Homo sapiens: one gene and its partners. The protein of the gene in region 1 purifies or fractionates together with the protein of each later gene. This does not show direct contact. Each region holds a gene or a part of one and is shown on either strand. Other genes may lie near its edges.

Region 1 (6,354 bases):
TCGACCAAAGTTAGTTAGTCCTGTTACTGGTCCTAAACATCCAAAATTATGGAAGCTTACTGTGGCCTCGCACTACATTAGAATTTGGTCTGGAAATCAAGCTACAGAAACAAGAAATCGTAAGCCATATTATACTATCAACCTAAATTCCAATCTGACAATTCCTTTACAAAGTTGTGTAAAACCCCCTTATATGCTAGTTATAGAAAACATAGTTATTAAACCAGATTCCCAAACTATAACCTGTGAAAACTGTAGATTGTTTACTTGCATTGATTTGACTTTTAATTGGCAGCGCCATATTCTGCTAGTGAGGGCAAGAGAAGGTGTGCGGATCCCTGTGTCCATGGACCGACAGTGGGAGGCTTCGCCATCTTCCATATTTTAACGGAAGTATTAAAAGGAATTCTAACTAGATCCAAAAGATTTTTACTTTGATTGCAGTGATTATGGGCCTTATTGCAGTCACAGCTACTGCTGCAGCTGCTGGAATTGCTTTACACTCCTCTGTTCAAACTGCAGAATATGTAAATGATTGGCGAAAGAATTCCTCAAAATTGTGGAATTCTCAGACCCAAATAAATCAAAAATTGGCAAACGAAATTAATGATCTTAGACAAACTGTCATTTGGCTGGGAAATAGGCTCATGAGCTTGGAATATCTTTTTCAGTTACAGTGTGACTGGAATATGTCAGATTTTTGTATTACACCCCAAGCCTATAATGAGTCTGAGCATCACTGGGACATGGTTAGATGCCATCTACAGGGAAGAGAAGATAATCTTACTTTAGATATTTCAAAATTAAAATAACAAAATTTTGAGGCATCGAAAGCCCATTTAAATTTGGGAACTGAGGCAATCGTGAAAGCTACTGATGGCCTCACAAATCTTAACACTGTCACTTGGTTAAAAACCATCAGAAGTTCCACTATTGTAAATTTCATATTAATCCTTGTATGCCTGTTCTGTCTGTTGTTAGTCCACAGGTGTATCCACCAGCTCCGAAGAGACAGCGACCAGCAAGAACGGGCCATAACGACGATGGCAGTTTTGTCAAAAAGGGGGATATGTAGGGAAAAGAGAGATCCGACTGTTACTGTGTCTACATAGAAAAGGAAGACATAAGAAACTCCATTTTGATCTGTACCCTGAACAATTGTTTTGCCTTGAGATGCTGTTAATATGTAACTTTAGCCCCAACCTTGTGCTCACGGAAATATGTGTTGTATGGAATCAAGGTTTAAGGGATCTAGGGCTGTGCAGGATGTGCCTTGTTAACAAAATGTTTACAGGCAGTATGCTTGGTAAAAGTCATCGCCATTCTCCATTCTCGATTAACCAGGGGCACAATGCACTGCAGAAAGCCACAGGGACCTCTGCCCAGGAAAGCCAGGTATTGTCCAAGGTTTCTCCCCACTGAGACAGCCTGAGGTATGGCCTCGTGGGACGGGAAAGACCTGACCATCCCCCAGCCCGACACCCGTGAAGGGTCTGTGCTGAGGAGGATTAGTAAAAGAGGAAGGCCTCTTGCGGTTGAGATAAGAGGAAGGCCTCTGTCTCCTGCATGCCCCTGAGAACGGAATGTCTCAGTATAATACCCGATTGTACATTCGTTCTATTCTGAGATAGGAGAAAACCGCCCTGTGGCTGGAGGCGAGATATGCTGGTGGCAATACTGCTGTGTTATTCTTTACTACACTGAGATGTTTGGGTGGAGAGAAGCATATATCTGGCCTATGTGCACATCCAGGCATAGTACCTTCCCTTGAACTTATTTGTGACACAGATTCCTTTGCTCACATGTTTTCTTGCTGACCTTCTCCCCGCTATCACCCTGTTCTCCTGCTGCATTCCCCTTGCTGAGACAGTGAAAATAATAATCAGTAAATGCTGAGGGAACTCAGAGACTGGGGCCAGTGCAGGTCCTCCGTACGCTGAGCGCTGGTCTCCTGGGCCCAGTGTTCTTTCTCTATACTTTGTCTCTGTGTCTTATTTCTTTTTTTAGTCCCTCGTCCCACCTGACGAGAAATACCCGCAGGTGTGGAGGGGCAGGCCACCCCTTCAAAATTCTTTATTATACAACATTCAATATGGTCAGTTTCCTCCAGACTGGCTTCTCAAGCTCTTACCAAGTGCCCCCTACCCCAATTTTTTTTTTTTTAACAGAGTCTCTGTTGCTCAGGCTAGAGTGCAGTGGAACAATCTTGGCTCACTGCAGCCTCAACCTCCTGAGCTCAAGTGATACTCCAGCCTCAGCCTTCCAAGTAGCTGGAACTACTGGTGTGTGCCACCACATCCAGCCAATTTTTGTTTTTGGAGGGGGTCTCACTATGTTGCCCAGGTTAGTCTTGAACTCCTGGGTTCAAGTGATCCTCCTGCCTTGACCACTCCCAAAGTGCTGGGATTATAGGCGTGAGCCACTGCACCGGGCCTACCCCAACTTTTTATTTTGACAAGTTTCAAACCCTCACGTGGATTCACTAATTCTTAGCAATTTTGCCACATTTGCTTTCTTTCTGTCATCATGACACTTCACCTCTACATACTTCAGAATGTATTTGCTATGAACAAGGTAATTCCCACACATAACCACAATTATCACACTTGATAAATTTAACATTGATATATCGTTGTCATCTAATATATGGATCATATTCAAATTTCCCCAAGGGTAAAATGTCCTTTAGAGCTGATCTCCCCTACACAATCTTGCATCTAATCCAGGATCACTCATTGAATTTATTTATTTATTTATATTTTATTTTATTTTTGGAGACAGAGTTTCACTCTGTCTCCCAGTCGGAAGTTGCTGGCAATCACAGCTCAGTGCAACCTCCACCTACCCGGGTTCAAGCGATTCTTCGACCACTGCCTCCAGAATAGCTGGGACTACAGGTGTCCACCACCATGTTCAGCAATTTTTTTTTTTTGTATTTTTTAGTAGAGATGGGGTTTTGCTATATTGCCCAGGCTGGTCTTGAATTCCTGAGTTCAAGCAATCCACCGACCTCAGCCTCCCAAAGTGCTGGGATTAAAGGCATGAGCCACTGTGTCTGGCCTGTATTTATTTTTTATGTCTCCTTTAATCTGGGGTAGTTCTTAGCTTTTTCTTAATGTTTTATAACAACGACATCTGTAAAGTGTCCAGACCAATCATTTTGCAGAATCTCTCTCACTTTGATCTCTATTTCCTCAAGACTAGGTGGTGAGTGAACATTTTTTGGGCATTTTGGGGAGGACTACTACAGAAATGTACTCCCCGTGTGTGTGTCCTTCCCAGTGCATCACATCAGAAGGCACACAAGGCCAGTTTGTCCTATTAAGCTTTTTTTTTTTTTTTTTTTTTGAGACTGAGTCTCACTCTGTTGCCCAGGCTGGAGTGCAGTGGTGTGATCTCATCTCACTGCAACCTCCCTGCCTCCTAGGTTCAAGCAATTCTTCTGCCTCAGCCTCCCAAGTAGGTGGGATTACAGGTGCGCACCACTATGCCTGGCTAATTTTTTTGTATTTTTAGTAGAGATGGGGTTTCGCCATGTTGGCCAGGCTGGTCTCAAACTCCTGATCTCAGGTGACCTGCCCACCTCAGCCTCCCAAAGTGCTGGGATTACAGGTGTGAGCCACCACGCCTGGCCATTAAGCTTTGATTCTTTGATTAAGGTGATGTTCACCAGATCAGTCTAGCTTTTGATACTTTTTTTTTTTTTTTTTGAGACAGAGTTTTGCTGTGTCACCGAGGGTAGAGTGCAGTGCTGCAATCTCAGCTCACTGCAACTTCTGCCTCCCAGGTTCAAGCGATTCTCCTGCCTCAGCCTCCTGAGTAGCTGGGATTACAGGTGCATGCCACCACACCCAGCTAATTTTTGTATTTTTAGTAGAGACGGGGGTTGCCCCATGTTGGTCAGGCTGGTCTCAAACTCCTGACCTTGAGATCCACCTGCCTCCACCTCCCAAAGTGCTGGGATTACAAGTGTGAGCCACCGTGCCCGGCCACTTTTGATAATTTAAAAACCTGACTTTCCGAGCAGTCAGAGCAGCTGTAGCACATCTGACCTGCTTTCACCTTCGATCTTCTCTGGGACCACCAAGAATTGAAGGATGGCAGGAAGTGTGAAGAAAGTGGTGAGGCTCTGGCTGGGTGCGGTGGCTCACACCTGTAATCCCCGCACTTTGGAAAGCTGAGGCGGGTGCATCACTTAAGGTCAGGAGTTCGAGACTAGCCTAGCCAACATGGTGAAACCCTGTTTCTACTAAAAATACAAAAATTAGCTGGGCTTGGTGGCATACACCAGCTACTAGGGAGGCTGAGGCACTAGGGACCCTGTGGATCGCTTGAACCAGGAGGCGGAGGTTGCAGTGCGCTGAGATCGCATCGCTGCACTCCGGCCTGGGCAACAGAGTGAGACTCCGTCTAAAACAACACAAAACAATAATAACAACTAAGAGAGTAGCGTGGCTTGGTGGCGGTGTCACTCCTGAGGCCTCTGGGAACAACTCTACAGTTATGCTTTGTCCCGTGCTGCGGAGCCTAGTATGGGGATTATCCCCCGCCATGCGTTGTATCTGAATCCTTGTACGCGCGCCCGGGGGTGTGCATGAAAATGGGCATGTGCGCGGTGCTTATGTATGTATGGGTCTTTTTGCCCGCAGCGGCGCGTCCGCAGGCTTGTTCTGTCCTGTGCTAGCCTTCAAGTTTTGGCACGTCCGTCCGTTTTTCTTCTTTGGCGCGTCCGTTGGGCACTCTGGGTTTGGCTAAATCGTGGACGCTTCTAAAGCGTTTCTGCAGGGAGCTGGTCAGAGTTGTCAAGTGCTCCCCCAGTTCTGGGCCGGCTTGGTACGGTCTACAGCCTCCCTTTCCTTTCCCCACCTCCCCCATGGTGGTTGCACCCATTCGGCCCGGAAGTGCTCGCTTCTCTGCATTACACGCCGGTCAGGATTCGCGACCCGACATGGAGCGTCCCCGCAGTCCCCAATGCTCGGCCCCGGCCTCTGCCTCAGCTTCGGTTACCCTGGCGCAGCTCCTGCAGCTGGTCCAGCAGGGCCAGGAACTCCCGGGCCTGGAGAAACGCCACATCGCGGCGATCCACGGCGAACCCACAGCGTCCCGGCTGCCGCGGAGGCCCAAGCCCTGGGAGGCCGCGGCTTTGGCTGAGTCCCTTCCCCCTCCGACCCTCAGGATAGGAACGGCCCCGGCGGAGCCTGGCTTGGTTGAGGCAGCGACTGCGCCTTCTTCATGGCATACAGTGGGCCCCTGAGGTTCCAGGTCCTTTGCGGCGGCGATCTGGAGGGCGTGGCTACAGGACCCGGGATGCCATTCAGTTACTCATCTTTTATGCTTTCGTCCTGACCTGTCTCAACTAGACTTGCTCCTGCAACCACCATGGGGGTTTTGCATTTACATTTGTGGACCATGTTACAGTTAAGAAAAATCCTGTTTCAGTCCTTATATGTAATAAAATGTTTTATGATGTAACTTGGCCCCAGAATGATTTTGAAGATACATTAAAGGAAAGCCCAAAGCATTTAAAAAAGCCAACCAAGAAAGACTAAAATCTTGGCTCTTGGAATCAGCTGGATCAGGCAAGGGGCTAGAGAATTAGAGCATTAGAAAGGCTCCCACAGCCACCCTGAAATCAGTCCTTTTATGTTAAGCAGGCCACCTGGCTCAGTGCCTACATACTCAACACTAGATTTTACTTTCTCTACAAAAGCTAGAATGTACCTGGTACGTGCTGACATGACCCTAACCCACAGACGATGTAACAGGTCTACCTTTTCTCAGAAAGGATTGTCTCACAACTTGTTCAACGAATTAGTTATGTCATGGTACATACATATAAGTGCGCAATTTTTGTAACATCTTTTATTTGTATACAATTATAAATTACAAACTTGTTTTATTAGGTTTTTTAAAATTTATTTTTCGTCAACTTAGTCCCTTTTATTTACCAGCAGTTTGCTCTGACAGAATAAATTACAAACTATTGTTTTGTTTAATCCCTTTAACCATCATGTCAGGCACACAGGTTGGAGAATATTAGCTCCCATTTTATGGACAGAGTGGAAACACTGTACCCATATTTAGTGTAAGACAGAGCTGGGATATAAGCCTTGGGCTTCCATAGTCACAACTGCTTTTTTGCATAACTTTGTAATACATCATTTTAAAGTAATCTGATTTCACAATGTTTTACAGTATAGGAGTAACATCTATAGCATCTCTTCTTGGCAGGTTACCTCTGGAGAGAACCAATCTAATTACCTCATACGCTGGCACTTTTTTTTTTTTTTTTTTTGAGACAGAGTTTTGCTTTTGTTGCCCAAGGTGGAGTGCAATGGTGTGATCTCGGCTCAC
Region 2 (8,016 bases), about 94 Mb from region 1:
GTATTCATGTCCCAAAAACTTTAGGGAGAAATTGATCACCTGACCATTTGGTATTCAAGGTCCCAAATACTTTGGGGAAAAATTTGTGGTATTAAAATCAGGTATCAATTACTTGATAACTCCTTGACTTTCGATGTTACCCTGGCAGGTTCAAAGGGATGACCTTGATTTTTTTTCTCTTTAGGCTGTGGAACCCTACTAATATTGGATCCAGATGAAGCTGGGCTAAGGCTTTTTAGAAGGTAAGGGGGCTGAAATTATTAAAGGTATATATTGTTGCTATTAAAGCCTTAATAGAATTAGGTTTTGACTCTTTGATTAATGTTTTAATATACAGTATAAAAGGAACCTTGGCGTTTGCATAGGATGAAGCTTATTTTTAGCTGATTGTGGTGGTGCGCACCTGTAGTCCCAGCTATTCCCAAGTCTGAGGCAGAAGGATCACTTGAGGCCGGGAGTTCAAGACCAGCCTCGTGGGCAACATAGGAGGACCCCGTCTCTAAAAGAAATTTTTTTTTTTTATGCACAGAGTCTGGCTCTGTCACCCAGGCTGGAGTACAGTGGCGCCATCTTGGCTCAGTGCAGTCTTCCCCTCCTGGGTTCAAGTGATTCTCCTGCCTCAGCCTCCCAAGTAGCTGGGATTATAGGTGCCCGCCACCACACCCGGCTAATTTTTGTATTTTTTAGTAGAGATGGGGTTTCATCATTTTGGCCAGGCTGGTCTCAAACTCCTGACCTCAGGTGATCTGCCCACCTTGGCCTCCCAAAGTGGGTATTATATGCGTGAGCCACTGGGCCCAGCCTAAAAATTTTTTTAATTTTTAGGCCGTAGTCCCAGCTACTTGGGAAGCTGAGGTGGGAGGATTGCTTGAGTCCAGTTCAAGGCTGTAGTGAGCTGTGATTGGGCCACTACACTCCAGCCTGGATGACAGAACAAGACTCTTTCTCTCAAATAAAAAACAAAACAAATCTGAAGCCTGTCTCTTAGTGTCCACTCATAAATTATAAAATTTAAACATAAAAAAATGTGGAGCAGTATACTGTGTACTATTACATTTTTGGACTACTACATTCCACTGGACTGTTTTTTTTAACCTTTCTGAATCTGTTGCCATATTTGTCAAGTACCTACTCTACTTAACTCCCGTAGTTGTGCAGATTACATGAGATATACGTGTTAAAATGTGTGATAAATTGAAAGAAAAAAAACCATAATTGTTATTTTTTTTGTTGTGTAGCTGCCTATGTAAGTGTTGTATTTTTTTGTTGTTTGTTTTTTCCTAGTGTAGCTTTGACTGGAATGATGGTTTGTTTGATGTGACTTGGAGTGAGAACAACGAACATGTCCTCATCACCTGTAGTGGCGATGGCTCGCTGCAGCTCTGGGACACTGCCAAAGCTGCAGGGCCACTGCAAGTCTATAAAGAACACGCTCAGGAGGTAGGAGGGAAATCTTTCTGGGCTGATTATTTTTCTTTCTTCGACTTTGGTTGAAATCCATTTGGGGATGGACACATGGAGAAATATCTTCAGGGGACAAGTTTAAACGTTAGCATTTCTTATACATACTAGATGTCACTTATTATTTGATTATTCAAACATAAAGTACCTCTTGGCCTAAGGAGTGGGGAAAGAAAAGAAAAGGTCAGTCTTCTCATTAGGCAGAAAGAACACCTCCAGCAGTGTACTCTGGCACCATTTCCTCCTGAGAGGCCCATCACTTTCTTTGTGCTCTAAGAATGTGCTTGCCACATGGTGCCTTAAGGTAGAGGTAGGTGGACTTTTCACATAGACATCACAAGATTGCCTTTGGGGCTTCAGTGAGATTCCCGAGGTGTTTCAGAGTATATTGGAGCAAGAGCATAAAATACTGAGTATGAGGCAGAACTTACTGAAGGGATTTTATATCTAAATCTGGTTCATGTGTCTAGATTTTGTGTGTGTGTATGTATAGCATAGAAAATAGTTTGGGCTTCAGTTGTACTAACATACATGTATATTTTCAGTGAACATAAAGACATCCTCTTTTTGTGTTTTTACCTTAAATGTTTTAAGATTTTCCTTAAGGGAGCAGTACATCCTTCAGATGAAAACTTGCTAATCTACTTTCAAATTTTTGTCCACCACAGTGCCTGGCCCGAGAAGGCCCTCAATAAATGCTTATTAGATGCAAGAATATCAGTCTTTTGTGGTAAAGATTAGTTATGTGAGGGGTCCAGATGTTTTATAGCTGTAGCTATTGACAATCAAGATTTCTAAGATTGTTACTGAAATAATGAAAAATTTTAGTTTCTATTTTAATTATGATAGCTATTTGAATAAATGTAGTTGTAAATTACTATGTTTTCAGGGAATTACTGAATATTAAGACAATTTTGGTAAAGGAGAAATTTTAGTTTCAGGATAATCAATGCACGAATCTCTACAGAACAGTATGTCCAAAATTCAGATACTTTTGTGGAACCTGTGTGAATTTGTGTGTGTGTGTGTGTGTGTGTGTGTGTGTGTGTGTGTGTGTGTCAGGGTCTCACTCTGTTGCCCAGGCTAGAGTGCAGTGGTGCAATCTTGGCTTACTGCAACCTCCACCTTCTGGAATGGGCTCAAGCCATTCTCATGTCTTAGCCACCCGAGTAGCTGGGATTACAGACGTGCGCCACCGTGCCCTGCTAATTTTTGTATTTTTAGTAGAGACGGGTTTCACCATGTTGGCTAGGCTGGTCTTGAACTCCTGGGCTCACATGATCCACCTGCCTTGGCCTCCCAAAGTGCTGGGATTATAGGCGTGAGCCACCGTGCCCAGCCAATTTTTGTGTGTGTGTGTTTTTTTGTTGTTGTTTTTTTTTGTAGAGATGGAGTTTCGCTATGTTGCCCAGGCTAGTTTTTGTGATGTTTGACATCTTTTTATACCACTTGTATTATAATGTATTTCTTTTCCTTCTTTCTTTTTTAAAAAATATTTTTCTTTTCAGAAGTTTTTTTTTTCCTTTTTCTTAAATCTTTGGTGCCTTTTATTATCTATATAAATTCAAGGATGATAACTGACATCATAAAATAATATAGCTAGTTAAGGTAAATTCAATATATTGACTTAATGTTTTTCTTTCAATCAAGTAAAGTCGTTGCTTCATTTATCCTAAAACAGTAATATTCATGAAACAATGGGGTTGATGGCTACTTTAGTATGTACATTTATTTGTTTTTAGTGTACATTGAGATAAGTAAGTAATGAATAAAATAAATGTATGTACCAGTTAAAATAATCTCTGGTGTAACTACTCTCTGGAAAATACTGTTCTAGGATATCCTGGATGGATGCTCACTCAGTCTTTACTTCCTGTCAGTGAAAGTAAATTTCACTTTCTCTTGAGATAACTTATTTGACTTTTAGGTTGTTCTGATTATTAAGAAACTGCTTCTTGTAATCCCAACTCTACCTTCTATAGCAACCAACTGCTGCTTTTAGTGTCTTTCTCTGAAGTGGCAAGACCAGGTCCAGCCCCTCTTGTCCAGGAAACCTCTTGAAAATAGCCATCGTGCTCTCTTCCAGACTGTGCACTTGTCATTTCATTGTCCTGTCCTCAGATGACATGATCTGTACGTCTTTCATCCTTCTGATAGCCTCCTTTGATAATCCTGTTTTTCAACTCCCCTTTCAACATATACCTAATTTATTCCAGAAATGTGATGAAGGGCTAAGCTTTATAAGATTTTACCACCATAGTCTTGAGCCCCTAGCTCTAATAATATTACCTAAAGTGGCTATACATTGTTCTCAGCCATGTCTTAGTGTTAGGTTACTTTGAGTCTGCTAGTAACACACTTACCTCTTTTGTTATTTGAACTGCTATTAAACCAGTTTTACATCATTCTGTGATTTTGCAGCTGATTTCTTGAACCGAAGACACACTTCTGTTTTTTAATTTTTTAAATTTGTTTTGCGTACTGCTATTCTAGTTAGACTTCCTCGTTTTCTTTTCAAATGCACTTTTTGGTAAGCGTTTGTATCAGGATGCCTTGAATGTTAGTGTAATAGAAAACAATTAAATGGCTTCAACAGTCAGAGTTTACTGTTTCACATATTTTGCTTGGTTATGTGAAAAATAAATGAAGATAACCTTTTTAGGTATTTGTTACAGCAGCACCCCTAATTCTTGGCACCAGTTTCTGCCTCAGTCTGTTCAGGCTGCTGTAACAAAGTATTATAGACTGGGTGCCTTATAAAGAACAGAAATTTATTTCTTACTATTCTGGAGGTTGGAAGTCCAAGGTCAGGGTGCCCACATGTTTGGGTTCTGATGAGGGCCCTCTTTTAGGTCAAAGACTACTGCTGTCTTTTCATTGTATCTGCAGGTGGTGGAAAGAGAATGAGAGAGGTTTGGGAAATCCCTTTTATAAGAGCACTAATCCCATTCATGAGGGCTCTACATTCATGACCTAATTACCCCCCAGAGGCCCTACGTCCTAAAACCATTACACTGGGGGGTTAAGATTTCAACATGTGGGTTTTGTGGGGATATATTCAGTCCATTGCATATGCCAGATACTCAAAAATACTTAAAAGGATTTAAGCTCAAATGAGAGTTTTAAGGAGCTAGTAAATATTTGTTGAATAAATTAATAAATGAGGCTGAGTGCAGTGAGTCATGCCTGTAATCCTAACACTTTGGAAGGTCGAGGTGGGCAGATCACTGAAGGCCAGGAGTTTGGGACCAGCCTGGCCAACATGGCGAAAACCCCGCCTCTACTAAAAATAAAAAAATTAGCTGGGTGTGGTGGTGCACACCTGTAGTCCCAGCTATTTGGTGGCTGAGGCACAAGAATCATTTGAGCATGGGAGGTGGAGGTTGCAGTGAGCTGAGTTCGTGCCATTGCACTCCAGCCTGGACAACAGAGTGAGACCCTGTCTTAAAAGAAAGTTATTAAAAAAAAAAGTTGATAATGAACATAGCCAATTTCTGTTTTTTTTTTTTCCACCAGTATGTTCAGGGAAGCTGTGTTGTGAAATAGAAGAGCAACTAATGGGTCATTTTCTTCTGTGGAAGAGAGTATATAATAAAGACGTATAGCATGGTTTTAGTCAATCTTGGATTTGAATCCCAGCTTTGTAAGTTACCTGTTGTGAGACCTTGCGTATGTCACATATTTTTCCTAAACTTGAGTGTTTTTATTTGCAAACTAAGTTTATTAGTAGTCTGTATCACAGACCAGCATTGAATAAATATGAGCTAGTATTATTATTTGCTCTTATTATAATAGGGTTTGAAAAATGTAAAACAAGTTAGAACTTTTCCAGTTACCCACTTTACCACTTGATGGCTATGTGTCCAACAGTCAATTTTCAAGTTGTCAGATGAAGCAAAAAAGAGAAATCCAAGATTTAGATATATTTTAGGCTTTGAGGAGTGAAGGTCTTGGTGAAATGAAAAGAAAGAAAAACATGGACATTATCTGTGTGAATGGTTGCTAAACCTAGCATCGAAGTAGGAATCAAATTCTTCTGTCTATTGTTTAACTGGTGTCTGCAGAGGTCATTATGTCTTTTGAGTCCCATAAAATGCCTTTGGCTTTGCTTATTCTAATGCTGCTGAATATATAATAAAAATTTTTAAAAGTTCAGTGAGAATAGAAAAATAAGAGTGAATTGACAATTTTATTTCACTGCTTTCTGACTTAAAACACTGTGCTACTGAGAGTGAGTTAAAGTGACTTTAAAGATGACATAAATCAATGTAATATATTAATTTCTAATTTTCAGACTAATGAGTTGGCTTATCACAATTTAAAAATGAGTTAAAATTTGTTCTCATAGTCAAATAACAAGGTTTATCAATTTGCTGAATTTTTATAACATATTTGATCCATTGAGGTTTTTGAGCATTGCTTATAAAAACTTATTTTTGACCTAAGTATACAACTATTAGTATTCTGTTATGGAGGAAATGTATTTGCTTATACATTTCAAGAGTTAAAATCTTGTTTACTTTAAAAAATGAATCAATTATTTACTTTTTGATAATGATAGAAGCTGAGAAGTCAATAATGATAGGTATTGTATTAGTCTGTTTTCACATTGTTATAAAGAAATACCTGAGAGTGGGTAATTTATAAAGGAAAGAGGTTTAATTGACTCACAGTTCCACATGACTGGGGAGGCCTCAGGAAACTTAAAATTATGGCAGAAGGTGAAGGGGAAGTAGATAACCTTCTTCACAAGGCAGCAGGAGAGAGAGAAAGAGAGAGAGAGAAAGCAGGGGAAACTGCCACTTTTAAAGCCATCAGATCTTTTGAGAACTCCCTCACTATCACAAGAACAGCATGGGGGAAACTGCCCCCATGATCCGATCACTTCCTACCGGGTTCCTCCCTGGACACATGGGGATTACAATTCAAGATGAGATTTGGGTGGGGATATAAAGCCAAACCATATCATTCCACTCCTGGCGCCTCCCAAATTTCATGTCTTTTTCACATTTCAAAACCAATCATGACTTTCCAACAGTCCCCCAAAGTCTTAACTTATTCCAGCATTAACCCAAAAGTCCAAGTCCAAAGTCTCATCTGAGACAAGGCAAGTCCCTTTTGCCTATGAGCCTATAAAATAAAAAACAAGTTAGTTACTTCTAAGATACAGTAGGGCTATAGGCATTAGCTAAATGTTTCAAATGGGAGAAATTGGCCAAAACAAAGGGGCCACAGGCCCCATGCAAGTCTGAAACCCAGCAGTGCAGTTACTAAATCTTAAAGCTCTGAAATGATCTCCTTTGACTCCATATCTCACATCCAAGGGGTAGGCTCCCATGGCCTTGGGCAGCTCTACCCTTGTAGCTCTGAAAGGTGCAGTCCTTATGGCTGCTTTCACTGGCTGGCATTGAGTGCCTGTGGCTTTTCCAGCTGTACAATACAAGCTGTCAGTGAATCTACCTTTCTGGGGCCTGGGGGACAGTGGCTCTCTCCTCACAACTCCAGTAGGCAGTGCCCCAGTGGGGACTGTGTGGGGCCTTCAACCCCACATTTTCCTTCTGTACTGCCCTAGCAAAGGTTCTCCATGAGGGCTCCTCCCTTGCAGCAGACTTCTGCCTGGACATTCAGGTGTTTCCATACATCCTCTGAAATTTAGGTGGAGGTTAAACTCTTGTCTTCTAAACTCTTCTTGTCTTCTGTGTACCCACAGACCCAACACCACATGGAAGCTGCCAAGGTTTAGGGCTTGCACCCTCAGAAGCAATGGCTTGAGCTGTACCTTGGCTCCTTTTAGCCATGGCTGGAGCTAGAGCAGCTGGATGCAGGGCACCATGTCTTGAGGCTGCACAGAGCAGCAGGGCCACTCAGGCCCACAAAACCATTTTTCCCTCCTAGGCCGCTGGGCCTGTGATGGGAGGGGCTTCTGCAAATGTCTCTGACATGCCTTGGATACATTTTTCCCATTGTTTTGGCTATTAATATTTGGCTCCTTGTTACTTATACAAATTTCTGCAGCAGGTTTGAATTTCCCCCCAAGAAATAGGTTTTTCTTTTCTACCTCATGGTTAGGTTGCAAATTTTCTGAACTTTTATGCTGTGCTTCCCTTTTAAATATAAGTTCCAAATTCAAATAATCTCTTCATGAATGCATGTGACTATACACTTTTAGAAACAACCGGGTCACTTCTTGAATGCTTTGGTGCTTAGAAATCTCTTTCACCAGACACTCTAAATCATCTCTCTCAAATTCAAGCTTCCACGGATCTCTAGGGCAGGGGCAAAATGCCACCAGTCTCTTTGCTAAAGCATTGCATGAATGACCTTTACTCCAGTTCCCAGTAAGTTCGTCATCTCTATTTGAGACCACCTCAGCCTGAACTTCATTGTTCATATCACTATTAGCATTTTGTTCAGAACCATTTAAGAAGTCTTTAAGAATTTCCAAACTTTCCCACATCTTCCTGTCTTCTTCTGAGCCCTCACACTGTTCCAGCCTCTGCCCGTTACCCAGTTCCAAAGTTGCTTTGACATTTTCAGATTATCTTTATAGCAGTA
Region 3 (8,016 bases), on another chromosome or scaffold:
CCAGGCTGGAGTGCGATAGCGCGATCTTGGCTCACTGCAACCCCCACCTCCCAGGTTCAAACAATTCCTGATTCTCCTGCCTCAGTCTCCCAAGTAACTGGGATTACAGGCATGTGCCACCAAGCCTGGCTAATTTTTGTACTTTTAGTAGAGACAGGGTTTCGCCATGTTGGTCAGGCTGGTCTCGAACTCCTGACTTCAGATGATCCACCTGCCTTGGCCTCCCAAAGTGCTGGGATTACAGGTGTGAGCCACCGCGCCCAGCCTATAGTTGTCTTTAAAATGTCTTGTGCTTGCTAAAATGTAGAATCTAAGACCTCATTGGCAGACAGACTGATTGAGAAATATAACCCAGGTTTCTGTATTTTAATAACCTTCCTCAAGCTGGGCGTGGATGTGCACCTGTGGTCCCAACTACTCAGGAGGCTGCGGGGGGAGGATCGCTGGAGCCCAGGAGTTCAAGTCCAGAGATTGTAGTGCAGATCACTTGGACTACACTGGGAAATTCCTCTGTGCCTGCAGTAAAAATCAGCCATGAGAGAGTCCCCCTATCCTTTCTGCCTTTTCTTCCTTCTGATCTGCAGGAGGGGTTTATGTGATAGAAGGCAGCTTAGCATTACCAGGTCTCTCCCTCCTTGAGGAGAGCAGGTGTTCGGGAGCCACACTCAGGGAGCAAACCAGGGGAAAATGTCAGTGTGGTCATGGGCACTCCGACTGGACATGGAATGACTATAGTTGTGGGGGGTGAGGACCTCTTAGATAACTTTTTTTATTTTTATTTTTTTTGAAATGGAGTCTTGCTCTGTTGCCCAGGCTGGAGTGCAGTGGCTCAATCTCGGCTTACTGCAACCTCTGCCTCTGGGGTTTGAGTGATTCTCCTGCCTCATCCTCCTGAATAGCTGGGATTACAGGTGCCCACCACCACACCCAGCTAATTTTTTTTTTTTTTTTTTTTTTTTTTTTTTGGTATTTTTAGTAGAGACAGGGTTTCACCATGTTGGTCAGGCTGGTCTCGAACTCCTGACCTCAGGCAATCTACCCGGCTCAGCCTCCCAAAGTGCTGGGATTACCGGCGTGAGCCACCGTGCCCGTCCTGTTTTGTGTGTTTTTTTTTCTTTTTCTTTTCTTTTTTTTTTTTTTTTGAGACAGAGTCTCACTCTGTCGCCTAGGCTGGAGTGCAGTGGTGCGATCTTGACTCACTGCAACCTGCTGCCTCCTGGGTTCAAGCGATTCTCCTGCCTCAGCCCTCAGCCTTCCAAGTAGCTGGGAGTACTGGTGTGCACCACCATGCCCAGTTAATTTTTGTATTTTTGTAGAGACGAGGTTTCATCATGTTGGCCAGGCTGGTCTCAAATTCCTGACCTCAAGAGAGCTGCCTGCCTCAGCCTCCCAAGGTGCTGGGATTACAGGTGTGAGCCACTACACGTGGCTTAGAACTTTTTTTGACATCAGCCACTTCAAAGGGGATTTCAAACTTGACTCCATATCACTCTCTTCAATGTAATTAATGCAACTGGTTTTTGAACATGCATTACTGCATGCTAGGTACTGTGCCCAATCCAGGGTCACAAAAGAATAAAGCACAAGGCCGGGCGTGGTGGCTCACGCCTGGAATCCCAGCACTTTGGGAGGCCGAGGCGGGCGGATCACGAGGTCAGGAGATCAAGACCATCCTGGCTAACACAGTGAAACCCCGTCTCTACTAAAAATACAAAAAATTAGCCGGGCGTGGTGGCGGGCGCCTGTAGTCCCAGCTACTCGGGAGGCTGAGGCAGGAGAATGGCGTGAACCTGGGAGGCGGAGCTTGCAGTGAGCCGAGATCGCGTCACTGCACTCCAGCCTGGGCAGCAGAACAAGACTCCGTCTCAAAAAACAATAACAACAAAGAATAAAGCACAACAGAGATGAGGATGTTATACCGCTTGCTGGAAAATAGTGTGCATAAGTACTTAGCTACCAGCAACCCGGAAGAAGGGAGTGCGGGATTTGAAGATGTGGAGCCAGTGTGTTGATTTCCAATTTGGTGTTTATCTCTCCGGGGCTGATTTTCTCTAGCATTATTTCATTTGTTTGGTTCTTCTGGGGACAGGTCATTGTTTTTTCAGGCAAAGGATAAGAATTCTGAGACCAGCTTTTTTTTTTTTTTTTTTTTTTTTTTGGTTGGGGGTGGGGGACAGGGACTCGCTCTCTGTCACCCAGGCTGTAATGCAGCAGTGCAATCATAGCTCACTGCAGCCTCGACCTCCAGGCTCAGGTGATCCTCCCACCTCAGCCTCCCAAGTAGCTGTGACTACAGGTGCATGCCACCACACCCGGCTAGTTGTTTTTGTTGTTTTGTTTTGTTTTGTTGTTTTGTTTTCTGTAGAAACGGAGTCTCACTGTGTTTCCCGGGATGGTTTTGAACTCCCAGGCTCAAGCCATCCATCTGCCTCAGCCTCCCACTTTGGGATATATTTTTATATCCCAAAGTGCTGGGGTTACAGGCGTGAGCCACTGCACTCGGCCTCGAGTATCCTTTAGTAGCAGGTTTTCTTTTCAGGCAAGAAGACGTCCCGTCACCCCCTGCACCAGGACCTGCACTATTTCCCCTTCAGGCCCAGCGATCTCATCGTTTGCGCCTGGACGGCGATGGAGCACATCAGCCGGAACAACGGCTGTCTGGTTGTGCTCCCAGGCACACACAAGGGCTCCCTGAAGCCCCACGATTACCCCAAGTGGGAGGTAGGTCTGCCCGGCGGCTGAGTCTTGATCCGAATCTCCTTCGCAGTTTCTGTTTCACATCAGTACCTCTAAAGAGTTTACAAATGAGATGGCATTTCCTTTCTGAGCAAAACATTGTCCTAAGATTTGCAGTGAGGATCAGAGAAAGTTCAAGGATGTCAGAGAAAACATTCATCACACCTATTTTCAACACTTTTTTTGTTTGTTTGTTTTTGAGACAGGGTCTTGCTCAACTCACTGCAACCTCCAACTCCCAGGTTCAAGCCATCCTCCCGCCTCAGTCGCCCTAGTAGCTGGGACTACGGGTGTGCACCACCACGCCCGGCTAATTTTTGTGGTTTTAGTAAAGACAGGGTTTTGCCATGTTGGCCAGGCTGGTCTTGAACTCCTGACCTCAGGTGATCTGTTCACCTCGGCCTCCCTAAGTGCTGGGATTAAAGGCATGAGCCACTGTACCTGCCCTTAACACGTGTTTGAAAGCCAGCCAAGGTGGGGAGCTTGGGTAGGTACTGTATAGGATCCGAGATTGTAAGTCCTAGCTGCAGAGGTAAGACATAAACCCTTCGACCCCAGATGTGTGTGGTAGACACCAAGTCAGTCTTACTCACTAACTGATGGCTCTCAGAGTAAGGAAGGAGAGATTGTCTCCTTGCAACTGCAGAGACCAGCAAAGGATCTGGGGAGGCTGGTGTCTGACCTGAGCCTTGCAGGACAGTGTACAATGTCCCATAGGGAAGAGTCGATATAGGAAGGCACAAGGTCAAGGGCAAGCCTGAACTTGACCAAAGAACAGGAAAGACCCAGGGAGCTTGCAGTCTAGATGGGCTGGGCGCTGGGGGTGTATTTTGGGGAGCAGCAGAGGAGGTGAGCCCAAAAATGTACATTAGGACCAGATTAGAAAAGACTGTTTTACTAACAAGTCTGCAGTTTATTTGGGGGAAGAATGGGAACTTTTTAGTTCAAACTTTTAGGAAGATCGAAGACCCTTTTTGTTTTTTTGTTGTGTTTTGTTTTGTTTTGTTTTTGAGGAGTCTCACTCTGTCACCAGGCTAGAGTGTAATGGCACGTTCTCGGCTCACTGCAACCTCTGCCTCCTGGGTTCAGGTGATTCTCCTGCCTCAGACTCCCGAGTAGCTGGGATTATAGGCGCGCACCACCACACCCAGCTAATTTTTGTATTTTTAGTAGAGACGGGATTTCACTATGTTGGCCAGGATGGTCCTGATCTCTTTAACTCGTGATCCGCCCACCTCTGCCTCCCAAAGTGCTAGGATTACAGGCGTGAGCCACCACACCTGGCTGAAGAGCTTTTAATTAAAAAACAAACAATTAAACAAATAAACAGTTTCATTGAGGTATAATTGTCATGTAAATTGTACATATTTTGCATGTATAATTTGATCATTTTCCACACACACATACCTGTGAAATCATCACCACAATCAAGATACTCCATCCTTCTCCCTGCTCTAGGCAACCACTGAGCTGCTTTCTGTTACTGCAGGTTAGTTTGCATTTTCTAAAATGTCATAGACATGTAATCACATAGTATAGATTTTTTTGTCCCGTTCTGGCTTCCTTCACTCAGTGTAGTGATTTTGAGGTTCATTGATGCTGTTGTGTATGATAGTAGTTTTTTGTTGTTTTTTTTTTTTTTTTTGAGACAGAGTCTCACTCTGTCACCAGGCTGGAGTGCAGTGGCACGATCTTGGCTCACTGCAACCTCCGACTCCCTTGTTCCAGCAATTTTCCTGCCTCAGCCTCCCGAGTAGCTGGGACTACAGGCACAAGCCACCATGCTCAGCTAATTTTTATATTTTTAGTAGAGACGAGTTTTCACTATGTTGGCCAGGATGGTCTCGATCTCCTGACTTCGTGATCTGCCTGCCTCGGCCTCCCAAAGTGCTGGGCTCACCGCGCCTGGCCAACAGTAGTTCTTTCCCTTCCCTTGCTGAGTAGTATTCCATTGCATGGCTGCACCGTGAACCATGGTTTGTTCATCCATTCAGCTGCTGATGCTTGGAAATGTTAAATGCATTTGAGCTCATGAGTGATGGGATCAAATCGGCTCTTCAAGGACAGTAATGTCACGTTCTGGTGCAGGACGCGTTAGAGGTATAGGCATCTAGAAGCAAAGAAACCAGAGAGATGACTATTAACGCGTTAGGTCTAAGGTGAAAAGACCCTGTGGGAGCCAAAGTGGGAGGATCGCTTGAGCCCAGGAGTTCAGGACCAGCCTGGGCAACACGGTGAGGTCTCATTTCTAAAAATAATAATAATAATAATTAGCTGGGCATGGTGGCGCATGCATGTAGTCCCAGCTATTCCAGAGGCTGAGGCAGGAGGATTACTTGAGCCCAGGAATTCGAGGCTGCAGTGGGCTATGTTGGTGCCACTGCACTCCAGCCTGGGTGACAGAGCAAGTTCCCGTATCAAAAGAAAAAGAAAAGATCCTGGGCTGGGCGCAGTGGCTCATGCCTGTAATCCTAGCACTTAGGGAGGCTGAGGTGGGCGGATCACTTGAGGTCAGGAGTTCGAGACCAGCCTGACCAACATGGAGCAACCCTGTCTCTACTAAAAATACAAAATCAGCCTGGTGTGGTGGCGTGCGCCTGTAGTCCCAGCTACTCAGGAGGCTGAGGCAGGAGAATAGCTTGAACCCAGGAGGTGGAGTTTGCAGTGAGCTGAGATCGCGCCACTGCATTCCAGCCTGGGCAACAAAGCAAGACTCCATCTCAAAAAAAAAAAAAAAAGAAAAGAAAAGATCCTGGAATCCCATGATGCTGCGAATGGAAAGAGCCCCCATTGTTAAAGCAGGGAGAATGAGTTGTAGTTCGATAGGAAATGAGGAACATGGTTTTAGGAACTCCTAACTCGTCTGGACACAGTGGCTCACGCCTATAATCTTAACACTTTGGGAGGCCGTGGCGGGTGGATCACTTGAGGTCAGGAGTTTGAGACCAGCATGGCCAAGATAGTGAAGCCCTATTTCTACTAAAAATACAAAAATTAGCCAGGCATGGTGGTGTGTGCCTGTACTCCCAGCTATTCGGGAGGCTGAGGTAGGAGAATTGCCTGAACCTGGGAGATGGAGGTTGCAGTGAGCTGAGATCGCACCACTGCACTCCAGCCTGGGCGACAGAGCAAGACTCCATCTCAGTAATAACAATAATAATAATAATAGAACGTCTCAGATTTCTTGCACCAATAATTAGTGTCAAATGAAAATATGTGAGTGTCTGGATCCTGATATAAAACCATTTAATGTGAAACTCATCAGTGAAGCCAAGGTTTAAAGTTTGGTGCATGCAACTGCAGTGGGCTTTGGCTGACAGAAGGCAAAGGGAAAAGTTTGCAGGGCTTCCAGAGCGTGTGGAGTCTCAGATACCCTGCTCAGATGCAGAGTGGGAGGTATGATTAGCTTAGTGTGGGTCACACATTCACCCTGGCCAGGAGAGAAGGGCTCTGGGTCAGAGTCTCAGCACTGTCTAAGAGGGATGTCGTCATTCCCAGAAGGAACTGGGGATGCTCTTAGGAAGAGGAATGGGCTGCTTCCCTTACCCTGACTCCTAAGGTGCTTCTCATGTCAATTTCTTTAATAAAGACATAACCGCATTACCTAAAGTAGCAACTAATTTGGGAAATAGTTACAAACAAACACAGTGTTTTAATTTACTATTCTTTCATTATTCTGGATGTAACATAAGTGCCTTTGAGCTCAGAAAAATTGAGCATTTTCTCCCCCCTATTTTGGGGAAATAGCTTCTCAGAGACACTCCTGAGTAAGAGATGAAGGATTTATTTAAAGTTCTGGGCGAGGAGGAGAACACACTGGGAACACTCACAGTTTCAGGCTGGAAATGCCCAAGAGATAGGTGGTTGCCTGCATTAACCACAAAAGGCAAAGCTAAGCTAGATCTTCATGTATAATGCAGTCATGAAGGGCAGGTGGAAATTCCACACTGTTCATTTCCTCCAAAAAATCAGTGATTTTAATATCAACATGTGACTTCTTTTTTTTTATTACCATTATTTTTCGAGACAGAGTCTTGCTCTGTTGTCCAGGCTGGAGGGCAGTGGTGTGATCATGGCTCACTGGAACCTCCCCCTCCCGGCTCAATCGATCCTCCCACCTCAGCCTCCTGAGTAGCTGGGACCACAGGCTGGCACCACCACGCCCAGCTAATTTTTGCAGTTTTTGTAGAGATGGGGTTTTGCCATGTTGCCCAGGCTGATCTCAAACTCCTGAGCATAAGCAATTCTCCCAACTTGGCCTCCCAAAGAGATGGGATTACAGGCATGAACCACCATGCCCGGCCAAAATGTGACTCTTAAAAACCAGATATCTGAGAGGCTTTTGTATACTGAAAAAAATGTAAGCATTTAATTTAGACATTTATTTCTCTTGGGAGAGAGAAATGCTTTCTTTCCCTGATGTTTGCTTTCCCTGATGAACCATTGACAATGTTTTTAATTATGGTACTCCCTCAAATGTAGACTTCACTTGCCTCTTGTTCTAGGGGGGAGTTAACAAAATGTTCCACGGGATCCAGGACTACGAGGAAAACAAGGCCCGGGTGCACCTGGTGATGGAGAAGGGCGACACTGTTTTCTTCCATCCTTTGCTCATCCACGGATCTGGTCAGAATAAAACCCAGGGATTCCGGAAGGTAAGCATTCACATTGCTGCACCTGCTGCAGAAGTGTGGGTTAGAAACAAAAATTGTATTCAATTCATTGAATTCAAATTAATTGAATAAAATTTTAATTAAATTGCATTAACATTTTAAAGATTTGTGGCTTTTAACCAACCTGGACTTTAGTCCAGTTTATTTACCAGGAAATATATTTGCTTACCTTGGGCTTTCTGTGCTCTTATCAGTAAGAAGCCAGGTGACCTCAGGATCCTAACCTTGTCAATATTGATTATGGGCCGGGCGCGGTGGCTCATGCCTATAATCCCAGCACTTTGGGAGGCCAAGGCGGGTGGATCACGAGGTCAGGAGATCGAGACTATCCTGGCTAACACAGTGAAACCCCATCTCTACTAAAAATACAAAAAATTAGCTGGGCGAGGTGGCGGGCGCCTGTAGTCCCAGCTACTCGGGAGGCTGAGGCAGGAGAATGGCGTGAACCCCAGGGGGTGGAGTCTGCAGTGAGCCGAGATCGCGCCACTGCACTCCAGCCTGGGCGACAGCGAGACTCCGTCTCAAAAAAAAAAAAAAAAATTGATTATGAAAGCCAGGTGCAGTGGCTCATGCCTGTAATTCCAGCACTTCCGGAGGCTGAGGCGGG
Region 4 (8,016 bases), on another chromosome or scaffold:
CGGCTTTACACCGAGACATTCCGTTCCCAGGGATGTGCGGGAAATAGAGGCCTTCCTCTTTTACTAATCCTCCTCAGCACAGACCCTTTACAGGTGTCGGGCTGGGGGACAGTAAGGTCTTTCCCTTCCCACGAGGCCATATCTCAGGCTGTCTCAGTGGGGGGAAACCTTGGACAAATACCCAGGCTTTCTTGGGCAGAGGTCCCTGCGGCTTTCCACAGTGCATCATGTCCCTGGTTAATAGAGAATGGAGAATGACGATGACTTTTACCAAGCATACTGTCTGCAAACATATGTTGACAAGGCACATCCTGCACAGCCCTAAATCCCTTAAACCTTGATTCAATATAGCACATGTTTTTGTGAGCACAGAGTTGGGGCTAAAGTTACAGATTAACAGCATCTCAAAGCAGAAACAATTTTTCTTTGTACAGATCAACATGGAGTTTCTTATGTCTTCCTTTTCTACATACACACGGTAACAATCTGATCTTTCTTTTCCCCACAATCTTCAGTCCAGCCCTCTATTCCACCCCTCACCTTGAAATACAGCAATATGATATGGCAAGAGTCTTATCCAGCGGATGCCACCCCTAGGTCGGCAATCACTGTTCCACCTCTCTGGGGTGACAGCAGGGCTCACAGGAGGATACCTGGGGAGATGTGCATTTTCAGAAACTCCCATTTCACTTTTAAGGGCAGACAACCTGCCCATCTGTGCTGATTTGGAAAAGCTGGGTGCATGGGCAAGTGAGCGTGGGACCCTCAGGGACAGGAGCTGGTGGATGACCAGGACAAGCTGTTGTATGGCTGGCTCTCCCTGCCCCAAACCCTGATGTTCCAGAGTTGCAAGTGAGCCTGCCAAGGGCTAGTGTCCCGAAGAAAGATCTGGAATGCCTCATCTCTGGTTTTCACAGCTATACTTTAGTGCCCAGAACACCACCGCCTGGCACTGAATGAAAGTTTGTTGTCCACAGGAAATGTGCTGCAGCCTGGGGCCGGGGCAATCATGGCCCGAATCGCCCAGTTTCTGAGGTAAACTTTTCTAGTTCTAGCCATGGGTTGGCCATTTTGACACTTTACTGGGCCCAGGCCCCAGGAAACTCAGTGTGCAGGTTGGGGAGGATAAGGTTGGACACCAGAATGAGGCAACGAGAGTCCTTGGCTCCCTGCTCTTGTGGACTCAACCTCTCCCCTACTTTGAAGTGCTGAGCCACGATACACAAAACCTTTGGGACTGGAGCAGAAGTTCTCTGTAGCTTGATTTTTAGCCAAAGCCAGGTTGTCATTTGCCTTTTGTGAGTGTGGACTCTGTCCTCATTTGTCAGGTGAGTAATCAAGTAAGAATGCTGAAAAGTGACTTTCAGCCTTTTTACTAGTTGAGCTGAGAACTCCAGTCATATCCCACTAGCAGAGACTTTGGGATAGGGCAGAACCATGGGGAAGGAGGACCCTCAGGAGGAGACCTGGTCAACTTTCCTTTAAGCGCCTGCAGGGTAAAGAGTGCTTAAATTATTTTCATGTGTAGATTTAAGAACTGCTTGGCTTTGTACTTCTAGATGCATAAATAAATAAATAGGAACATTAGCTAGTGAAGGAACAGGAAAACAACCCTCTAGGAACTGGGAGAGGTTTAGACTGCCCAGCCTGTAGTTCAAGGCCCCCTACAATCTGGCTCCAGACTTACCTTCCAGCCTCATCTCCTAGCTGCTTACTCACCTTGACTTTTCTTCGTTCAGCCGGCTGTGGGCCTACTGTCTTCCCTGATATGGTCATTCTGTCTCCTTGAAGTGCTAGCCCTACCTCCTCTTTCTGCCCTAGACAGAAAGACAAACCCTGCCTAAACACAGTCTCACCATTTTGGCATGAGTTATCCAGGCTCTCAGGCTGAAATTGAGAGCCCCTTCCTCTCCAGCAGTAGCCATATACTTCCTTGTGATGTGGTTTGCCCTCTTGCCCTATTATTTCAGTCTCTGATAGTTGATTCATTTTCTGTGTGTTGGTTGGGCATCCTCTAGGGCACAGTGTTATAAGCATCGCAGCATCCCTCAGGTGATGCCTTGTGGTAAGTAGGTATTTAGTGAACACTTGGTGGATTGAGTGAAGGAATGGTAACTACCTGCTAGGGAGTTAAGGGACCCTGGAAGGGTCAAACAGGCTGCACAGGAGGCTATCCCCCTGAGAGAGTCTCTGCAGAGCCTGGCCTGGGCACTAGTTCAGAGGTTCCCAACTCTGGCTACACACCAGAATCACCAGGATGCTTCCACTCCCTCAGATTCTGAGTCTGTGGGTCTGAGGAGGTCTGGAAATTTCCCTAGGGCTTTGTACTGTTGGCCAAGGCAGGTTACATCAGGAGGGGAAGCCCTACTAGCTTCCAGGGCTAAGACCAGTATGAGAGTCTTGGGGAACCTACCAGAGCAATGGATGTTAGAATATATGATGCCCATCAGAGTGCTTCGTCTAGGTGGGATCAGGCTTTCAAGAGTCCATGGGAACATGCAGGGTTAGCTATATGATTACTGGTAAGGCCGAGTGGTCCCTGGCCTCAGACTTTAGGCATTTCTTTTGCTCTGGTGCTCTGTCCCAGCAGCAGTTCCTTTTCTCTGTTTTTTGGGGGAAACAGAGATACACAGTTTTCATTTCTGAATCTTCAAAGGGAGAGAGAGAGAAGGATCCCTGTGGCCCAAACAGGCTTCCCTTGCCTTTGGGCTGTGCTTGGTCTTTGATTGAAGATTCTCATAGGAGTAGAAGGGAATGTGCTTGTGGGGCCCTGGGGAGCAAGTGCCTGCAGAGATGGGGTCTGCCCAGTAGCTGCTCACCCCCATTCCATGGATCTGGCCTGGCATGGGAGCAGAGCTGCTGGGTTTGTTCCCCTGCCCTTTACATCCCTTGAGGGGGGCAGTTAGAAGCATAGGACTGCTTTCCATGAGAGCCTGGCATGGAATTGGGGGCTGATTCTACTTTCTCACCTTCTGTTTCAGTGACATCCCGGAGACTGTGCCTTTGTCCACTGTCAATAGACAGTGTTCGTCGGGGCTACAGGCAGTGGCCAGCATAGCAGGTAAGTTATGACTGGGTGGGTGCCTTGGTCCTGGACCTGTGGGTTTGGGTCAGCAAAGTCGCTGTCTGCCGGGCAAGCAATAATTACCATTTCTGAGGACTCTAACCACAGAAAGAGTGCAGGAGCGCCCCCTACCACTGCCCAAAGCCTTTTCTGAACACTCCTGGGTCTTCCATTTCTGAGGCTGGGGCTGAGTCCCATCTAGAGACCAGGTGGGGAAGAGGCTCCACTGCTTCCAGAACAGGTGGACTCTGGCAAAGGATGTTTATGAAATGCTTTTGTTACAGGTGGCATCAGAAATGGGTCTTATGACATTGGCATGGCCTGTGGGTAAGAATTTTTTTCTGCCGGAGCTTATTAACCAACTTGTGACAATAAAACTAATTTTCATCTGAGTTCTCAGAGGCCATGATTTCAGGATTCCCCCCATCCCCTTTAGGCAGCTGGCCACGAGTGGGTTCTCACAAATGCAGGTTAAGAGTGGCTACCAACTCTGGCTGCTCAGGAATCACTCACACCTCTCAGCACTAGCAGGGGAGGGGAATTGGCCTCTAAAAGCTTACTTTCTTGGAAATCTTTCAGGCTGGAAAAGGTGGGAAAACATTTTGAGAAAATCCAGCATTTGGGTTTCCTTTGGGGGCCCTTGTTGATTCATGATGCTGCTGAGAGAGAAGTTGCAGTTTGGGTTCCCTAAAGCCAGGGACAGCGCCTACTGTATAACTAGTTTGTTCATTTTACTAGGCTGTCTGTCCCTTTGTCTCCCCACCTTGGAACCAGTGTGGAAACTTCCAGCTGCTTATGGGCTATGAGGGACATAATTAGATCTGTGGTGGTTTGGTCACTGTCACCTTCACCTAGACTGTGGCTCCATCATTGGCTGCAGCAAATGGAGCTGCAGAAGTTGTATTTGGCAGTGCCTCCAGGGAAGGTCAGGGCACAGGTGCCCAGGCTTGGGTGGGCATCTGGTGCTGGGAGGGCAGGGGAGTAAGGTCTTTGGCAGGCTGGGGGAGGTGAGCAGCCCCAGGGTTCTGACATGCCTCCGCTGCCTTTCACATCCTCTTTAGGGTATTTCTTGAGAGGACGCATTGCTGGCCCCTGTCCCAGGGCTGTGGCAGCTGTCACTGAGTTGTAATGACCTATGTCTACAGTTGTAAATAAAGCCAAAGACCACTCTGCAAGGACTTTGGCTGGGCAAAGGCCACTGCCGTTTGATTTCTCTCATGCTCTTCTATCTTACTGGGTGAGAGGTGGCATGGATAACTTGAGAAGGGCTGGAGCTTTTATGAGTTTCTTAGAGAGTATCTGATTCCCAAGCAGGTTAAGGATGATGGTACTAGGATATTAAGATCTGGGCCAGGCCTGACACCCACATCACAGGCTGACTGTTCTCCATAGACTTTGATCAGCAAGTATTTAACACAGGGCACTCTAGTTGGAAGTGGGCTCTGGGACCAGACTACCTAAATGTGGATCCAGGCTGGGTCACCATGGATAAGTTATACAGTCTCTCTAGACCTCAGTCTCCTGATCTATAAAATGGGGATACCTAGCTCAGCTCTGTTGAAGTTGAGAAGAATAAATGGAGTAATAGCAACAGTTTACACTGTGGAGTATTTGTCTGTCATGTGACTGACACTGAAGCACTCTAATATCTCAAAAGAATTCAGAATAGTGCTGGGCACGTGAAAAGCACTCAGTCAAGGTTATCTGTTATCATCCCTTGAGGTGTTAGGGTCCCCCATGGCCTCAAAGCCCTTTTTTGACCACACTACACTGCCGTCTCCTTCCTCTCAGCTCGTAGCACTTCCTTGTCTATGCAGGTCTGAATGCCCTTTGAGCTCAGCTTTGTGGTTACTTTTATTTTTATTTTATTTATTTATGTTTTTGAGACAGAGTCTCGCTCTGTCGCCCAGGCTGGAGTGCAGTGACACGATCTCATCTCACTGCAAGTTCCGCCTCCTGGGTTTACGCCATTCTCCTGCCTCAGCCTCCCACCCTGGCGCCTGCCACCATGCCCGGCTAATGTTTTGTATTTTTAGTAGAGGCGGGGTTTCACCATGTTAGCCTCATGATCTGCCCGCCTTGGCCTCCCAAAGTGCTGGGATTACAGGCGTGAGCCACCACAGCCGGCCTGTGGTTACTTTCAAATTGTCTCTTCTCCCTTCTGAATTTGTGGGCCCTGAGGGCAGGCCCTGGCTTGTGGATGTGTTTCCTCCTCTGTGGCTGACAGCAGAAGGCTTTTCTCTGGAATTGCCAGTTGGCTGATTTAGCAGTGTATAGGGAAGCATAGCCCTGCCCCCAGGAGTGTTTATTGTGCAGTGCTCTGTCCTGGGGTGGGGGTCGAAATAGAGACAGGGCTCAGTACTCGTGGCTGGGCCTTGCTGGCCAAGTGCCCTGCCTGTGACTCCCAGAGGCCCACTGGTCTTCCTAGGGCTCCCTGGCTATTTCCTAGCACTTGCCAAGTGTTCAGCTATCTCTGGAGGAGTCCTGCTAGGGCCCAGTTCACCTTACCTTCTCCTCCTCTTCCTCCTCCCCAGGGTGGAGTCCATGTCCCTGGCTGACAGAGGGAACCCTGGAAATATTACTTCGCGCTTGATGGAGAAGGAGAAGGCCAGAGATTGCCTGATTCCTATGGGGTGAGTGCTCCCATAGCTCTGTGTGCTTGTGCCCTCTCTGCCTGGGGCAGGGAGCCAAGGAACTTTTATCATCTCTGTGGCTGGTGGTGCCAAGCCTTGGCCTCCTTCCTTTGGGCATGGTCTGCTCCGCAGGGACTTTGGGGATGAGACTTGATGTTGCCCTTGACTTCCATTTCCTGAAGGCCCCAGGTCCTCTCTGTGCCCCCGAGTTTCCAAACATCGCCCACCTTGTCACTCCCACACTGAGGTGCTCAGTCATAGGAAGGACAATGGTAGCTCCACTCCAAAGCCTTGGGGGCCTAGAAAGTTGAGAAGGCAGTGGGAAGCTTGTGACGACAGAACATGCTGGTGAGGGGAATTGGGCCCTGTCAGGTGCAACAAGAAAAGTATGTGGCATTTGGCCGGGTGCGATGGCTCATGCCTGTAATCCCAGCACTTTGGGAGGCCGAGATGGGTGGATCACAAGGTCAGGAGATCGAGACCATCCTGGCTAACACAGTGAAACCCTGTCTCTACTGAAAATACAAAAAATTAGCCGGGCGCGGTGGTGAGCGCCTGTAGTCCCAGCTACTTGGGAGGCTGAGGCAGGAAAATGGCATGAACCCAGGAGGCAGAGGTTGCAGTGAGCTGAGATCGTGCCACTGCACTCCAGCCTGGGTGACAGAGGGAGACTCTGTCTCAAAAAAGAAAAAAAGAAAAGTATGTGGCATTTGTATGGAACACTTTAGCTTCTCTGAGCCTCTGGGCCATCCCCAGGGTCTTTGGGCCAGGAGTCCTGGATCCACTAGACATATGAGGAGACTGAGGCTTGGAGAGGGGCAGTGCCATGGCTTCTTTCACATACTGTATCTCCAAGGGAAGCCTATAAAGCCAGAAGCCCAGGCTGGAAGGCCTAGCTGTGGCTCTAGGTTCTCAGGATAAGCATAGACCCCAGCCAAGGTGACCAGGAAGCTTAGGTTTGGCCTTTCCAGAGGAGATTTGGGAGTCCTCATCTCCCTACATTGCAGCAGTCTTCCTTGAGGCATAGGAGAAGCTGGCCAGGAGTAGCCAACTAGTGCCCCCACCCAGGCCCTCCCCTGCTCCTTTTCTACCCTGCGCTGAGGCAGCTCACCCAGGGAACAAACTCCTTTCTGCAACTGCCCCCATGCAGGCTGCCCTCTCTTGAAGAAAGTCTCTTTGGTGTATGAGCTTCTCAGGATCTGGCCAGCATTGCTGACTTCCCTATCTGTGCCTTTATATCCACTTTCAGGGCAGGCTGTACCATATCCTGAGTCATCACTACTGTCTGTGGCATGGACTGGCCCTTACATCCTGTCCTGCCTACAGCCTTGGGAACCCAAAGTTCCAAGCACAGCTCTACAGCCTGGTCCCTTCCTCTAGGCTGTCAGACCAATGCCCACACTATCTGCTGTTTGTGTTCTAGGATAACCTCTGAGAATGTGGCTGAGCGGTTTGGCATTTCACGGGAGAAGCAGGATACCTTTGCCCTGGCTTCCCAGCAGAAGTGAGTGCTGATTGGGGAGGAATGTTTAAAGGGCTGGAGAGTGAGGTTTTGAGTCTATCTAAGTGGTCTGAAGTGGCACCATTTCGTGGTTACTGCTGGGCAGTGAGTGCTTTCCAGGCCTTGTGCCACCCAGGTTGGGGGTGGGAAGTAGGAAGTGTCAGGGCCACTGTGAGTTGGTAGTACTTCCAGGTTCTATTACTGTCTGTTCACCCTGACTTTGCCCTAGCTAGGCCTCAGTTTCCCCCTCTGTTATTTTCTGGCTGCGGTTTGGGGACTGGACATTGTAGCCTGGAGTGTGGGGCCAGCAATGTTAGGGACTCTGGCATCCTAGCTTCTGGACCATGCTGGGTCTGTGGCAGCATCCTGAGGCAAGAACTGAGGACGATATCAGAGAAACCCCAGGGGCTCAGGCAGGCTAAGATTGGCAAGTCCCGGCTGTCCAGAGAGGAAAGCAAAAGCAGGGAGTGGTATCTGGGCCAGGTGGGCTTCCCTGAGGCAGTGATTCTTAGCCACTTTGGGTCACATAACCATTTGAAAATGTGTTAGAAGCCTTAGATTCCTTCCACTTGAATGTCCCTGGGCACTTACATGCTGCACATATTTGCAAGGGTCACCCTTAAATACCTTGTGCTTTAAAATTGCTTAAATACAAAAATACATGAGTAGTTTAGTATATGTCACTTTAAATAGGCGGAAACTGGGGAATAGATGACATCGAACTGTTGAGTTTGAGCAGAAAAGTTAGCAGAACCCAGCACAGATATTTCTGGGGTTCCATCCTCAGTTTAGCAGAGAGAATCAAGCAGGCTTAATCC

What was found.
Region 2: the proteins of PEX39 (region 1) and PEX7 purify together in Homo sapiens (affinity purification with mass spectrometry; 3 studies listed by BioGRID and IntAct, with this or other methods). This does not show direct contact.
Region 3: the proteins of PEX39 (region 1) and PHYH purify together in Homo sapiens (affinity purification with mass spectrometry; 2 studies listed by BioGRID and IntAct, with this or other methods). This does not show direct contact.
Region 4: the proteins of PEX39 (region 1) and ACAA1 purify together in Homo sapiens (affinity purification with mass spectrometry; 3 studies listed by BioGRID and IntAct, with this or other methods). This does not show direct contact.

The regions. Positions count from the first base shown.
Region 1 is NC_000006.12:42,889,383-42,895,736, reverse strand, and holds PEX39 (peroxisomal biogenesis factor 39), read left to right. Parts: upstream 1-4,915; 5' UTR 4,916-4,948; coding exon 4,949-5,254; 3' UTR 5,255-5,472; downstream 5,473-6,354. UniProt on the Homo sapiens protein: May be a peroxin involved in the PTS2-mediated protein import pathway.
Region 2 is NC_000006.12:136,825,030-136,833,045, forward strand, and holds part of PEX7 (peroxisomal biogenesis factor 7), read left to right. Parts: intron 1-184; coding exon 185-242; intron 243-1,289; coding exon 1,290-1,440; intron 1,441-8,016. UniProt on the Homo sapiens protein: Receptor required for the peroxisomal import of proteins containing a C-terminal PTS2-type peroxisomal targeting signal. Specifically binds to cargo proteins containing a PTS2 peroxisomal targeting signal in the cytosol.
Region 3 is NC_000010.11:13,283,065-13,291,080, reverse strand, and holds part of PHYH (phytanoyl-CoA dioxygenase, peroxisomal isoform a precursor), read left to right. Parts: intron 1-2,539; coding exon 2,540-2,721; intron 2,722-7,241; coding exon 7,242-7,391; intron 7,392-8,016. UniProt on the Homo sapiens protein: Catalyzes the 2-hydroxylation of not only racemic phytanoyl-CoA and the isomers of 3-methylhexadecanoyl-CoA, but also a variety of other mono-branched 3-methylacyl-CoA esters (with a chain length of at least seven carbon atoms) and straight-chain acyl-CoA esters (with a chain length longer than four carbon atoms).
Region 4 is NC_000003.12:38,126,971-38,134,986, reverse strand, and holds part of ACAA1 (3-ketoacyl-CoA thiolase, peroxisomal), read left to right. Parts: intron 1-977; coding exon 978-1,035; intron 1,036-1,095; exon of another isoform or gene 1,096-1,496; intron 1,497-2,981; coding exon 2,982-3,061; intron 3,062-3,348; coding exon 3,349-3,391; intron 3,392-5,598; coding exon 5,599-5,697; intron 5,698-7,120; coding exon 7,121-7,201; intron 7,202-8,016. UniProt on the Homo sapiens protein: Responsible for the thiolytic cleavage of straight chain 3-keto fatty acyl-CoAs (3-oxoacyl-CoAs). Plays an important role in fatty acid peroxisomal beta-oxidation. Catalyzes the cleavage of short, medium, long, and very long straight chain 3-oxoacyl-CoAs.